Regions from separate parts of the Homo sapiens genome. Here region 2 is linked to region 1. A link means that fine-mapping ties the variant in region 1 to the expression of a gene that starts in the linked region. Tissue or cell type: whole blood. Region 1 holds a variant in brackets; the other region holds the start of a gene. All regions are shown on one strand. Distances are from middle to middle.

Region 1 (8,000 bases):
TCTCAGTACCATATATTGAATAGTTTTCTCTTCACTTTTTTGATCTATAATACCAACTTTTTCTATGTATATGGATATGTTTCTGGGCCTTGATATTCTGATTTGTTGGCCTGTTTTTCTAATTTTAGCAAATACCACATTGCCTTAATCTGTAGTTTTATGTGAACTGTTGATATCTAGCAAGGGAAGACCTTCAGTTTTTTTGTCCTCAAAATGGAGTAGGAACTCTTTAACATCTTCCTCTACTAGCTGATTTTTATAATCATCATAAAGAACTTCATAAAAAATTATAGGGTTTTGATTGACATTGCATTGAATTGATAAGTTAATTTGTAGAGAATTGATGTATTTAAAATGTAGGGTTTTATTTCTTGAACATGCTTAAATAAATATGTCATTTATTTGTCTTATTTTATATAACAATTTTATTTTTAATGTCTGTATATCAGTTATCAGATTTATTTCTAAGGTAATTTATTATTGCTCTTGTATATAGAATATATATATATATGTAAGTATGAGTATGATTTTTTCCAACATTTTATTATAAAAATTTTTAAACAGAAAAGTTGAAAAGCATTTACAGTGAACAACTTACCACCTACATCAAGCATTGATATGATCTATTAGCAAAATCAAGTCACACCTATTCATTGACCTATTATGTATAGCTGTTTTGTTCTGCATTGGCAGAATTGAGTAGTTGCGATAGAGACTGCATGGCCCACAAAGCTAAAAATATTTGTCATATGGCCCTGCATAGAAACAGTTTGCTAATCCCTGACCTAGATTCTATAATTAACATTTTACATGCTTTATCACATGTCTATCTTTCTAGCTATTCATCAATCCATCATATTTTTTGTTCTTGCATTTCAAAGTAAAATGAAGACATTACTACAATTCAGCTTACACATTAGAGTTTAAGATTTGTTTATAGTTCTTTTCTAGGCAAAATTTTCATATAGTAAAATGTATAGATCTTAAGTATACCAGTAGATGAGTTTAAAATATACATCAATAATATTTTTTCATGTAGTAAAATGTACCAAATCTTAAGTATACCAGTAGAGGATTTTAAAAAATAAATCAATAATATTTTTTAAAATACTATTTCAACTACTGTTTTGTGCATGATTAGTAACACAATTGATTTTTTTATGTGGATTTTGTGTCAGGCAACATTGCTGAACCTATTCTTTTTTAAATAATATGTCTATAGATTCCCTGTGGTTTTCTTTGTGAATTAAGGTAGGGTTTTTTCCTTCATTTCCAAATTCTTATCTACTCACTTCATCTTTTCTCATTATTTTTGCTGAGCGTCTATAACGCTATTGAATAGAAACAAATAGTGGGCACTCCTGTCTAATTTCTGGTTTTAAAAGTTTGCTTTTTATATTTCATAATTAAGTATGATATTTGTTGCATTGAGTTATAGAGGTCTTCTATTCTTAGTTATAAGTTTTGTTATGAATGGGTGTTGAATTTCACTGAGTGTTTTTACTGTATCTATTGGGATGGTCATATGCTTTTTTATGTATTATGTTAATGGATTTAATTATGTTGATGGGGTTTTTCAATGTTGAGCCATGTTTGTATTTCTGGGATAAACCCAAACAGATCATGATTTCATTTTTCCTTTTTTATACATTTGTGTTTTGATTTTCTAATATTTTGTTTAGAATTTTTGCATTTCTGTTTCTATTTGAGATAGGCCTGTGAGTTTCTTTTCTTTTACTGCACGATGCTAGTTTGGTATCAGGGGTATACTAGTCTCATAAAATAAATAGGAGAGTGTTGCCTTTTTTTTTCTATTTTCTGAAAGACTTTATATGATTACATGTATCTATTTCTTGAATGTTTCATGGGAGTTAGCTTTAAAACCATATTGTAAGGGCTCCTTATCCCTATTTGGGTGTAATCATTACTTCAGTCTGCTTAATGGTTATAAGTTTACTCAGGTTGTTTATTTTGTTTTTAAATCATTTTCTAAAGTTATATGTTTTAAGGCCTTTAAACTTGCTCTTCCCACTGCCTGTAACACTCTTCCGGTGCTTCCATTTCTTTTCTTTACATTCTCTGCTAAAATGTCACCTATTGGTGGGCTTTTGTTGGCCATCCTTTATAAAATAGCAACGCCACACCTATCCCTTGTATTCTTTATCCTGTTTTGTTTTTTTCCTCCATTGTACTTCTCTTCATTTGATGTGTTATATGTTTTCTTCCTATATAATAACTAAATGAAGGAATGAATCCTGTTATTATGTAGAAGCCCTATTAATATCATAGTAAAGTATAGGGGAGAAGTATTTTATAATCTTATCATTAAGTCCCAGTTTTTTAGTGAGCCTGTGTTCCTGGGCTGTGACCTTCACAAGGCTTCTCAGCTTCTCCCACTCCTCCTCCCCAACATGAGACAGGAAAGCTAGAGGGGCTGGAGTTGGGTATTTCTGTTCCCCTACATCAAAGACTAGAGTGGACTGGAGTTGAATATTTCCTTCCCAAGTTGGTTAGATTTCTGTAAAACCCAAGTTAGTTAAGACCTGACCGAAGAGTTTCCCTTTAAGACAGGCCTCTCAAGGAAAACAGAGTACTCTGGCTGTATTTCAGATTGGTTACTTTCCACCTCCCCCTGCAGGAAGTCAAGGGTATTTTTCTCAGATCTTCACCCTGAGAACCTGGTGGGACCTGCAGAGGTTAATCTCATGGAAGCAAGGAAGGCCTCCCTAAGGCAGGGCCTCCAGAAGTTTTTCTCTCTCGTATTAGTCTGTGCTCAGCCTGCAAGTATTAGATAATTACCTTTTAATTGATCTTAACAGACTCCAGCAGTGGCTCTGTTCCTGTTGAGCTGTGATTCCCTGTATTCGAGGGTCCCTCCAGCTTTGAGGACATCACAATGCTCTGATTCTGACAGATGTGAGACGAGTTCTTGATTTTCAGTTTGTTCAGCATTTTTCTTGTTAGAGGAAGAATGATGCCTTCTAAGCTGTTTATATTTTGTATAAGAAAGTGGAAGTCCTAGCCTTTTTATTTTTAACCATTCATAGCCAAAGCTGAAATAGGTACCTATCCTTGTTTTCTGTCTAAGCCAGCAATTCCCCTAGTTTTTTCTTTACGTGGCTTTAGAAGGGTCTTCTCCATTCTGAAGGTCTGTTATGTAGGTTCCCAAACCCTTATCCCATTATGGTCTAAATCTCTAGACCACAGTTATTAACTACTTTCTCTCTAGGCCTGGTTTTATATCTGTTATCACTGCATTTTCCTTATGTTTTAAAGCTTATCTAACCATTTAATATTTTACATGTTATATAGTAGGAGAGTATTAGAATCTCTTGTCTGCCATAATGCCAGCAACAGAAAATTAAAATATATAACTATTCCTACTCAGTACTCTGAATTTATAATCTCTTTGAAAGAAAGGATGTGGAAAGTAACAAAATAAGTAATAATACCCTGCAGCGAACAATAAATTACATCCAAAATATATGATTTCAGCTGATTTTGTTTTGCTCTTAATTTGTTTCTTCAATTTAAATATAATCCAAGTTAAATGAATGTAGGCTTCAAATCTAAATGTCTCAATTCCTTTACAGTTCTACTTGTGAAATTTAAAATACTCTTCTTCTGTAGTTATTAAGAAATATTAATTTGCTGAATCTTAAAATGATATGGAAACCATATAATAATTTTTATCTTTAGTGTTTTCATTCACCTTTTAAAAATCCTAATGTGCTAAGTTTTTATTTAGAAAAGACAGACAAGATACTTAATTAGATAAAATCTATGACATACAGTATACTGAAAACTAATCTTTAAAAAGATTTATGTGTATTAATAATGCAGTAAAACTTGGGAAAATTTTATTTCCTAACTTAAAATTTTAATATATGAAAGATATACCTAAAGGTTTTTTAAAATAGGATAAGTACATAGCACATTGATTTTTAGAGTAGAACCAGGCATAAATTCAGTGTTTGCTGAATTCTTAGTTT[G/A]AGTAAAAGATTTTTCTTAAGCTTTAAAAATTCTGGGAATAACTCACATGGGTGCACAAAGACTCTAATCAGCAGAAGATCAGTGCTTGCTGCACACACAGCTTGAATTTCTATGTCAATCCCCATAGGAGCAGACATTCTGCCTTCAAGTTGGAAGTTGAACAGCAGAGCAGCAGGCAAGATGGCATTAACTTTAATCACCTTGCTTAGGATGTGGTTAACATTTTACTTTACTACTGCCTTCCTGCTTATGATTTTGAAGAATACCTGTAATCCTGTCAGGGTTGTTATTTGGAACAACATTTATTAAAATGATTTTGTCATTAAGTGAACTCTCTCCATTGATTTATTAGCTATTTGAATCATACATGTTCAAAGTATGATGTGAGAAATATTTTGGAATCCTTTTTCTAGCACCTTTCTTTTTGACTTAGCTTGTATTATGCCAAAGCAAAAATAAATCTAAGTTGTTCTTTTAGTATATACATGGCTATATAGTACCTCTTTTTAATCATCTTTCTTCATATAACTTAAAATTTTTTTCCCATTCATTAAGTTTTATACTAGTGCTAGTAATTCTGAGTTCTGTTTGGAAAATATATCATGATAAGTGTCTAACATTTATGAGTGATACCTATAGATAAGAAAAAAATAGTTGTTTTTCACAGCCAAACCGTAATCAGTAGAGGCATTGTATGCTTGCATGTTTATGGTAAGAACTGATTTTTAGACTCTATTTTATACTTTTCTAGGTCCCTTTATAAATTTATAGTTGTTATATTACTTGTCTTTTTAAACACAGATCAGGGTTTCTGCCCAATATGTTTATACATAAATATTTTGTCTTTAAATACACAGAGATTGAAAGATGTTGGTGGAGAAGCATTTTACCCATTACTTGAAGATGAGTGAGTATATGTAGTCTCATTTTAGATTTATTTTTCTTTCTATTTATATTAGATTTATAAGAATTTTATACATTTTCTTTGAAAAATGTTTCCTAAATAGAAAATAATAACCTGAGGTTTTGGTTTATTAAAATTTTGTGCTTTTTCTGAAATCACTGTTGGTAGAGTTAGGAAAAAAAAAGAAAATTTTGTACCTTTTGTCCATTTTTTTTTTTTATTGCTTTTGTTCTCTTTTACAGCCAGTCTAATTTACCTCATTCAAACAGCAATAATGAGTTGTCTGCAGCTGCCACGCTCCCTTTAATCATCAGAGAGAAGGATACAGAGTACCAACTAAATAGAATTATTCTCTTCGACAGGCTGCTAAAGGTATGGATTCTAAAGTATAAAGTGTTAACAATAGCCCATATGGAATTTTTTTTTAATTTTTTCAATAATTCTTAGGGAATCTTGAGTAATAAGAAGATTAATTTTTATGACCTATCTTGTTCAGTTAGCTTTCTTTCATTTTAAAAATGATACATGTTCTTAGTAAGTAAAATTAAAAAGTAAAAACAAGGTGTGGTAACATATGCAAAATCATGTTAAAAAAGGAATAATGTCTTTATTTTTTAAAAGAAGACTTAAAAGTCAACAGGAAAAACATCAATATTGAAACAGAGAAATGGATAGAGTACATAATATAAATACAGCTAGTAAATCTATGCAAATTGTTCATCTTCACTGGGAATGAAAAAAATACAAATTAAAATAGGAGTGATTTTCCATACTGCATTAGCAAAGTGAGCACAGATGCAATGATATTGGAACTCTCATTCTGTTGGAATAAATGTGAATGTACTGAAACATTTTGTAAAACAATTTGAATGCATATATCAAGAACCTTAACAACATCTGTTGCCTTTGTCCTATTAATACTCTTCTAGAAATTTCTCCTAAGACACAAATTTATAAAAGTATAAATTTATATGCAAAATGCGGAAGTACTCATAATAGTAGCTTATAGTTATTGATCACTTCTCTATCACCACGTTTTTAACAGAGTGCTTTACCTGCATTATCTTATTTAACCCGTATGAGACTGGTACTATTATCCTCCATCTGACTCATTTAAAATCCCCCCAGAGCATCAAATAGAGAGGAAGGATTAAAAATCAGGTAGAATCAGCTGCTCTTCTTAATTATATAATACGAGTTTTTCAAGGTGTTAGGGATTCATTCATTCTACTGCTTATTTATGTGTATTAATAACACCAGACACAATAATTGCACATACTTTGAAATTTATTGCAAGTCACTTAAGTTTTATCATGGGTATATTCAGAACTGTCTAGACTAAAAGATGGCACTAGGTAATTTGAGACGTTTTCATTTCTTTTTTGATATCATAGGCTTATCCATATAAAAAAAACCAAATCTGGAAAGAAGCAAGAGTTGACATTCCTCCTCTTATGAGAGGTTTAACCTGGGCTGCTCTTCTGGGAGTTGAGGTAAGGAAAAAAGAAAAGGTTAGAAGCTGATTAATTATGCAAAGAAAGGATGGAGAAGGAGAGTGCTTTCCAAATATATATTTTTCTAGTTATTAGAAAATTATATAGTAAAATATAAGCATTAGAATATTTGGCAATTTTAAGTGGAAAGAATATAGGAAAACAATAGAATAGAAAAATATAATGGAGGGTTTATTAGATTATGCTATTTAATGTTTCATTTAATAGTGGTCACAGAAAATGTTTTGATTATTACCATAGAATATTTTAAGAATATATATCAGTTATAAATGGGTAGTCCTGCTTATAAAGTATGCTTGTTATAGAATATGATTGTTTATAAATGGTTCTGTCTAAATTTGGAGAAATCTTTCCATCTAATCTGACTTGTCAAAATCACTAACATAATTTAGTGACTTTTGGCACACCTATTCCACCTGGACTATGCTACCAAGAGAAATAGCACTTTCTCTGTGGTTGTGAGGAAAGATGTGTCACAAATTATGGTGGCCTGCAATACTAACAGAGAACTCCGATGACATCAATCATAATAATGGGCCAAATTCTTGCCAGATTTTTTTCATTTCTTGTCAATTTCTTTGTCATCTTGTCTTCTTATATTCTCTTATAGATAATTATCCTTCCTTTTTAAAGAATTCCAGTCTGGAATGGTGGCACATGCCTGTGGTCCCAGCTTCTTGGAAAGCTGAGGCAGAAGGATTACTTGAGCCCAGGAGTTCGAGGCTGCAGTGAACCTTGGTTGTGCCACTGCACTCTAGCCTGGGTGATAGAACTAGACCCTGACTCTAAAAAATTTTTAGAAATCCTCAACTATTTTTAATCCTTTTCAATCCTCTGTTTGAAGAATTTCCTTTCTTCATTCCTGATTCCCTTGATAAGAGTCTACAAATACCTTTGAGTTTAGTTGGTTACTTTACAAGAATGCCAATTGTTCAATATCATACATTAATCATTAGACTTGTAGAACAATATAATGCTAAAGTTCAAGAGGACTTCAGGTATCAGGTTGTCCAACTCTCATTAAATTAATGTCTCAAAGAAGTTGATAATAGCCGATATTGGAGTTTGAACCCTACTTCCTGGCTCTTTCTCTACCATGATAATAAGCCAGAATAATAATATTTTTTTCATGCTTGGTCCTATAGAACACGACCAAAATTTGTAGTCGTTCATTCAGTTATTTCTAAATTTTAACAGTCTAACTGAAAAGCGTAAATGACCTCTTTAGGCCCTAATGATTCTATCATGTAATTATAGATATAACATAACAAGGTTGTGTTATGTTGTAGGGTCTGGGAGGTTGGCCAAACATACTTACTAGCTAAGTAATTAATCCATGACATTTATGTTCTGGTATGTATAATTCAAGAGTTTGCCTCAGCAAAATGGCAAATTGTCACTTATCAGAGACCTTCATCACAGATTGTCAAAGACACAGAGAATTTCTCTTAAGATGAGTTCTACCCTGAGTTTGAATGTGCTTATCTGTAGTTGGGTAGGTTTCCAAAGATAGATATTTGTAAAAAATAGATTTCTCTATATTACTATTTGTATTAAGGATATGATAAATTAATATATCTTCTTTTATT
Region 2 (8,152 bases), 78 kb before region 1:
TGCTCTAGCTATAATTTCTCTAAAGGATATAATTACGAAGCATTTTCCAATATATTTAATGACAGAATCCTAACACAGGAACAGCTATTAACATTTATTTGAACTAGTATTCTCTAAAACAGTTTAGGAAATGCTAGTTTAAGTCTCTGGACTAAAATGTAAAAAAATTAAGACTGTGAGATTAAAATAGATATAAGAATGACATGCACAGTAATTGAAAATATAAAACATTTATGAAGAGAGAAGCACAGAAAACTGTAGACCAAGTATGTTAATTGTGTTTGGTGAGGATCAAGACCTTTTCTTTTTCCTTTACTAAATTAAAATGGTAATAATGCATTTTTTAGGACAAAAGCTTTTGAAACATATTATCTAAATCATTCTGTCCCTTCACATTAATTTTGTCCTTCTCAATGTTAATTATCATACTTCATCAAACCTAAAAAGCCATTAATCATACGATGCCTCTAATGCAGAATCCCAAATACTGTACATGAATTTATAGTACATCTTAATCATTAAAATACACACACAAAAGATGATTTTTGAGATTCTGAGATCTTCACTATCATTTTTGTTTACTGAGCAATTTCCTCAGTAGTCCTCCCCACCCACACCATCTAAATTGCCTGCAATCTTTTTGAAAAAGCAAAATCTCTGCCCCACGATGACAACATTGGGAATCAAACATAAGTAAGTTACTACTTTGAAATCAAAGTTTTACAGGCAGACTTTTAATTTTAGAATTCTTATGCTATATAGGAACGCTACACAAATTTGAAAGTGTCTCTACTCAAAACCTCTAATTTCCCTATTTCAGAATTACAGTAGGTAAAAATTTACATTTTTGTTGGAAGCTTTAAATACTATACAAGAAATCTAAAATGCCATCAATTGTAAAATGGCTTCAATCCCAAGAAGCTCTATTATTTTATGTACATTATGAAAAAAAACACTATTGAATCAACTGACCCAATGCTTTCTTATTACTTAGACACATCCTATATTATTTATTGACAGACTTCTTTTAAATTTAACCCTGGATTTTTATCTTGTATCACCCTTTGTTTCCCCACATACACAGTAACTTTTCATTCTAATGCTAATCATAATCTTCTAAATGATCTTTAAAAGGGAAATTACACTCAACAACTATATGCCAATAGTGCATATATAACTCAACTGAAATAATGACAAGATTAAGTTATGACTAAGTGGGTGTAAGTGTGGGCAATGACAAATATCTCACAACTGCCAATTCATCTACAGTGATTTAAAGATGTCAACAACTTAAAAATACATCCCTATTTCAGAGATGTTAAGTAAGAGAAAAATGTGTATCTCAGAATTGATGGAATATAGTAATTTTAATCATTTTCTTCCTTTCTTCTCCTCCCTTCATTCCTATTCTTGCCTTCCAACTTCTTTCCCTGATTTGCTACACAATCTAATTACTGGATATGTAAAAATATTATAGTATACATAAAATACCCCACACTGAAAGACCGTCCTTATTATAGTGTAAAGCAATGTGGTACCTTTTAGCACTAGGTGAAAATTCCTGCTAGGATTTAAATCATATGTGTCAAAAGTCAGAATTTAAAGAAGAAAATTAAATACACTGAGAACAATGCATCTGAAGACACTCAAAATATGTAAGCGCAGCAACCAGCAGTAATTCCCTAGGTCTTTTATCAACCTTTGCCAAAACCTATAAAAAGAATATCTAAAATTGCTTTTTTATGGAAGTTCCTATTTCCCTTACCAGACAGCCTGCTTTCCCTTTACTGATGAGGACATAGGGGGTCCTGGAGGGTTTAAAGGATGGCTATAAGGAATGACTATAGGGTGGACAGCTATGAGAGGCCAGTCCATGCATTTCTAAATACCATCGTCATTAACACAAAAACTTTCCTCCCCAGTACAGAGTCCATAAAATTTAAAAAGGAGTATGCCTTGGCCTCCCATGACCCTCTTACCTCACAATAAGGCCATCTTTTACCTGGTTAAGATTTGCAGACTAGACCCATTACATACCTTGTCATTAAATACCTATAATATACCCTAACCTTTGCAATCTTGACAGATGTGATTTCCATTTTATAGACAGATCCAGGAAAATTACATGACTTATCTGAATCCCTTCAAGTACCACATAGCAAAGCCATGATTTTAACTTGTGTTTGCCACTCTGAAACTCACACTGGAATTCATTTTTCAAGTGTCCTCCAAAGCCTAATTAAATAAAATTAACCCTGTCATCTATAATACTCTTACATATCCAAATTAAGTGCATCAAGAATATAACTGGCCATTTCTTACCACCCATAGTCAAACCACCATTATGCTTCCTCTGGATTATTGCAAAACTCTTCTTATTGGTCTCCTTTCTCCTACCACGTCCTCCTCTGTGTATTTTCCTTAAAGAGTGACCCTCTTAAAAGGAAGTCAGAGCCCATCACTCTACTGCTCAAAACGCTCCAAAGTCCTATTTCATTTAGAATAAAAGTTAGATGTCCTCAAGATCTTCATGACCTGCTCGCCTTGATTTAATCTCCAGTGAAGGACTAAACCCTTCACTCAACTCTGCCCTACAGGCCTCCTTGCTATTCTAGCACGTTTCTGCTTCATGACCTCTGCAATGGCTGGTCCCTCTGTCTGACTGCACTTTCCCAAGATATTCGCGTGGTTAAATCTCCCACTTCTGTCAGCCCTTTACTTAAAAGTCATCTTTTCAGCAAGACCTTCCTGTGTCACTTTATACCCTTCTTCCCTGCTTTACGTTTCTCTTCAGGACTATCACGACCTAAAATACAGTATGTTTCTAATTACTTTGCTTAGTATGTGCCTTCCTCTCTAAAATGTGAGCTACAAGTAGACACAGATTTCCGTCTGTTTTGTTCACTGCTGTTCACCTAATGCCTAGAACGGTGTCTGGAATAGAGTGGGCGCTTAATAACTATTCGCTCAATGAATAAATTCCTGTCTTCACCCTCCTCTCCCCCAAAGCACCTAAGTCCTTTGACACACACATTCACATAACAGTAAATACGCTTAGGGATCGATATTTTTCTGTAGCATTCTTAACTTAGGCCTGCATCCCATTTCTCAAACGTGGCTCCTTTAGAAGGAAGTCTCAAACTCTTTCCTGTTTCCTTAGGCCAGGGCTGGTCCTGCTGCGAACGGACTACCCATTAGCAGCGCAGGCCAGGTCCTCTCTCCTGGAGGCAAGTTAGAGAAGGAAGACCCCTACGATCGCAATCGGCGATCCCCGAGTGAGTGACCCGCCACGACGTCACTCACATGAAGCGGAGGACCACGGGTTCCGAGACAGCCACAGCAGGAAGCATGTAGGTCCAGCCACCCGCGTACTATAGCAGTGAGAAAGGACCCAATGAGGTGTCCTTGCTGAAAGCCTGAGTGTTCTACAGATTCAACCCTCAATTCTTTCTTCCTCTTCCTGTGCTCAGTCCCATTAACCTGCCATACCACGCTCCTCGTCTTCCATTCCCTCACCCAGTATTTTCAATCGACCCCCCCCGTCCCCCCGCACCTCTTTCTCTCTCGCTATATGTCCTTTCGTGGCCAGTTTGGGCAAGGGGAAGGACACCACAAGTCGGGGTCTTTCCTCAGCGTTGGGTCGCGGTGGCTGTGAGGGCGGAAGAAAAGGCCAGGCTGAGGGGAGGGTAGAGGGTGAAAAGCTCGGATCTGTGTTTGGGGAAGGCCAGGCTTGCGCTCCTCGCCGGGTTCCGCGAAGGTTAACCTTGGCTGACTTGGCTCGCGAGCAAAGGGCAGCGTCTGAGCTCCCGGCGTTCCAGGAGTGGCCTCTTTTGTAGGAGCACCTGAAATGCAGCGTCTGGTGCACTAAGCCGTAGCGGCAGCAGCAGCCACAGCGACAGCGCTGGGGCCCTGTGTAGAAGCTCCATCCCCCTTGTCTTTGTGCTTGCCTGCGTCCCCAGACTCAGAGGCAGGTATTTGGGTAATCCAGTTTTCCGTGTCGTAGTGGGTGGGGTCTGTGGGAGGTAGAGGACTATCAGGAGCAGTGAGTGGCCCCGCATGTCTTCAGAATAGATAGAGAACCGAGCTGTGGAGCCGCTTGCTGATAGGTACTGTCTCCATCCCTAGCTACAGCCCGCCTTTCCTGTAAATCAGGTTCACCTGAGTCGTTTGGGAACCGTAGGCTTAGTAATCGCTCTGTCACTGCCTCAAAGGAAGGCTAAAGGAGGTTAGAGAATCTAGAATCCGCCCCTCCATTACTCACCTTGGAGGCAGAATTTTGCTTTGGTTTGTTTCTGGCCCTCGAGGTTTAGTCAGTCGTCAAAGTGTAACACCCCCTTGAGCAGTAGGAGAAAGTGAAGCAGAGGAAGGAAGTTACTTGAGGATTGTCAGTGGCTGCTTTTCAAGGATCCCTGTCCTGGTTTCTATCTATTTGAGACAAAAATAACCTCTTGAGAGAATGTATATATAAAATAAATGAATTAGTATCATTTTCCTGTTGAAGAAATGTGAAATTTTATTCATGATAAAATCGGCGTCTTTTGCCCTATTTTTTACTTTCTTTCCCCATTCGAGTCGTTTAAAACTCTAAGTTCTTTGAGGGCACAGAGTCTGACTTGTTCATTATCCTTTGCCCACCAGCTGGAAAAACAACTGACTTAAAATAGGGGCTTCAAAATATTTGTTGAATGAATGAATTTTCAAGCCCAACTGCTTGCACTGCTGTTTCCCTCATCTAATCTCTCATCTCTACGTTTTTTTTCCCCCGGTAGTTTTCTTCCACTCACGAGGTGTAAGTGAATGTATGTGTGTGTATTTTTGTGTGTGAGCCTTTTTATGTACAACCATTTAAGAGGTAGTGGAAAAAGAACACTGATTATGCTAATTAGTGTTTTATCTTTTTCGATCATTGTGTTTTATTTGGTTATTTTATTTTCAGCTATGTGATGATAAAGACATCTGATTGAAAATAAAATGGTCGGGCGCGGTGGCTCACGCCTGTAGTCCTAGCACTTTGGGAGGTCGAGGCGGGTGGATCACCTGAGGTCAGGAGTTCAAGACCAGCCTGGCCAGGATGGTGAAACCCCGTCTCTACTAAAAATACAAAAATTAGCCGGGCGTGGTGGCGGGCGCCTGTAATCCCAGCCACTCTGGAGGCTGAGGCACAGAATCGCTTGAACCCGGGAGGTGGAAGGATGCAGTGAGCCGAGATCATGCCACTGCACTCCAGCCTTGATGACAGAGTGAGACTCTGTCTCAAAAAAAAAAAAAAAAAAAAAAAAAATCAAGTAGTATAGCGTAGTAGGATTGAATAATAAAGTGCAACTGTCTCACCTGTCCTACTCTCAGTACTGTTCTTCAAAGATAACCACTTTTAACCTTTTCTAATTTTAGGTCTGTAGGTTAAATAATAAGTTAAACTGTTAATTCTTTTTGTTGACTTCTTGAGATAGCCCTAAGTTGAACTGCTAATTCTTTTTCCGTTGACTTCTAGAAATAGCCCACACCATTCACAATCTCCTCTGAATTTTGGAAGAGTCATAATCATAATTTTTAGTTTTTGTATTGGTTACTTTATAATTCAAAATAATATACGTAAACTACTTTTTTCACATCAACTTTTGAAAATATATTTGACTCCTTGTTTGGTAAAACGAGAAAAGTAGTGATTCTACCTTTTTCTTTATCACTTCAGAAACTACATTTATGCCCACTTTCTCTTAGCTGGACATTTACTTGTACATTGTCAAAGTTAGTAATATATTTCTTAACTATAACATTTGCGCTTTATTCACGTGCCAAAAACCAATAAAAAAAATAAAATGTTTACAGTATTATGGCTTTATAGTTGTTACTTAGAGCAAGTCCAAGCTGTATGCTCTGATATGTTTTTTTCCCCAGAGTTTTAACTTCATGATCCCTGTGCCATACTAAGGAGATTATTTATGATATCAAGGTCAAATGGGTTTTTATTTCTTTCCTGCCAAGGGCAAAATATGCTGTAGTTGAGCATGCTTTATATTTTGGAGTATGTAATACATAGTTTTTAACCGTCCCCACTTTCTTAATTGCCTTTCTGCTTTCTCCTGGGGAATAGGTAGGTGGATGTGCTTTCTTCACTGAATCTTCTCATTCTTTGTATGATGCACATAGAAGCAAGCTTCCATTCCTCTGTTTGAAGATTTTCCCCTTAAAGCCCAATGGCTTTCTGTTTAATTTGAACAGATTGCATTCTAGTCCTTTTGTATTGCTCCTATCCTGGGCTTATATTCATTCTTGGGTAAATAACATTGTTTCTTAGCCCCTCATCTTCTGTTATTGGGCTTCCCCCTATTTCCCTGGAATATATCCTAAGGAAACTTGCTCACAAAAGGCAAGTGAAAGGTAATTTTATTTTTTAATGTTCGTATAGCTGTAAATTATAATTTGCTCTTATGACTGATAATTTGGCTGTATATAGAATCAAAAGTATTTTCCTTCAACTCTCAATCCTTCCATGTCTTCTAACTTTTTTTTTTTCCTTTTTTTTGAGCTGGAGTCTCACTGTGTTGCTCAGTCTGGTCTGAAACTCCTGACCTCACGTGATCCTCCCACCTCAGCCTCTCAAGTATCTGGGATCACAGGCACAAGCCACTGCACCAGGCTCTCTTCTGACTTTCATTATTGCTGATGAGAATGCCAGTCTCACTTTAACTTGTTGATAGCAGAATCAGTTTTTTCTGTCTGAAATGTTTACAATTTTCTAGTTACGTTTGATGCTTTGAAAATGTATAGCAGTGTTTATCTTCTCATAAGCTGTTTTATTTTGTGTGAGATAAAATTTGATACATATTAAAACACATTGATTTTAAGTGGCCAATTTAATGAGTTTTGATGCATGTACTCATCCATAAAACCACTACCACCACAATCGAGATAGAGAATATTTCTACCACTACAGAAAGTTCCTCTGTTTCTCTGCTTATTCAACCCCTCTCCCCCATCTACAGTACTATCTTCTGATTTTTTTATTAATACTATAGTTTAGAACTATAGTTCTGGAATTACATTTAAATGGAGTCATACAGTATGAACTCTTTTGTGTCTGCTTCTTTCATAAACTTTATGTTTTTGAGTATATCCATGTTTTGACATGTTTGTTCCATTTTTGTTAAATAGAATTTCATGGTACAAATATGTTAATTGATTCACTTATGGGACATTTGCATTGCTTCTGGTTTTTAGCTATTAAGAGTACAGTTCCTATGAACATACTCATACAGTGTTTTTTTTTATGGACAAATGTTTTCATTTTTCTTGGTTAAAGAGTGGAATTTCTGAGTCATAAGTTAGGGATATTTTTAACTTTAGAAAAGTTTTCCAAATATTTTCCAAAATTCTTTTGCCATTTTACGCTCCCACTAGCAATATAGCAAAGCTCCACTTCCACATTCTCAACACTTGTTACTGCCAGTCATTTAAATTTTAGCCATTGTAGAAGTTAAAGGTTTGTCATTGTGATTTTCATTTGCATTTCCCCCAATTAATGATATTAAGAACTTTTTCATGTGCTTATTATTTTCATGCCTTGTGTGAAAATATGTTTGTGACTTTTACCTATTTATGTATTGGCTTGTTTTATTATTGAATTGTGGTATTTCTTTATAGACTCCGAATACAGGTCAATTATATACAGACACACATATGTTTGATTTTAAAAGGTCATATATATACATAATGTCATATGTATATACAGACAGATGTAAATAATATTTCCCTTTAACTCGAATTTTTATTTTCTCAGGGGTGCCTTTGGATATGCAGATGTTTTTAATTTTGATGAAGTCTACTTTGTCAAAATTGTCTTTTGTGGCTAGTGCTTTGTTCTATTGTGTCTAAGAAATCTTTGCCTAGCCTAAGGTTGTAAAGATATTCGCTTATGTTTTCAATTAGAAGACTAACAGTTTTACCTTTTACGCTTAAGCCTATGTTCCATCTTAGATTTTTGTGGATGTATCAGTAGAAGTTGAGGTTATTATTTTTTTATATGAATATCTTTTTCCAGCACCATTTGTAAAAAGGACTTTCCTTTTCCTGTTGAACTCTTTTGCTTTTGTTGAGAATCAATTTATTTTATTTAAATTCTTTTAATTATGAAATATGTGGTATTAACACA

The links. PIP is the estimated chance that this variant, and not a neighbour inherited with it, causes the effect.
Region 2: it holds the start of AIMP1, and the variant in region 1 is fine-mapped to the expression of AIMP1 in whole blood (TOPMed, PIP above 0.99).

Annotation. Positions count from the first base shown.
Region 1 is chr4:106,233,659-106,241,658 of GRCh38, reverse strand. It overlaps TBCK (TBC1 domain containing kinase), which reads left to right. Exons shown (of 26, transcript NM_001163435.3): 13 at 4,851-4,900; 14 at 5,140-5,269; 15 at 6,292-6,390. Among named protein-coding and RNA genes, the nearest start is that of TBCK, 79 kb to the left of the region's middle. The variant G/A (reference allele first, on the strand shown) is at 3,993.
Region 2 is chr4:106,311,746-106,319,897 of GRCh38, reverse strand. AIMP1 (aminoacyl tRNA synthetase complex interacting multifunctional protein 1) reads right to left here and starts at 3,348. Exons shown (of 7, transcript NM_001142416.2): 1 at 3,304-3,348. It overlaps TBCK (TBC1 domain containing kinase), which reads left to right and starts at 3,689. Exons shown (of 26, transcript NM_001163435.3): 1 at 3,689-3,967. RefSeq lists enhancers at 3,140-3,389, 3,880-3,939, 4,020-4,109.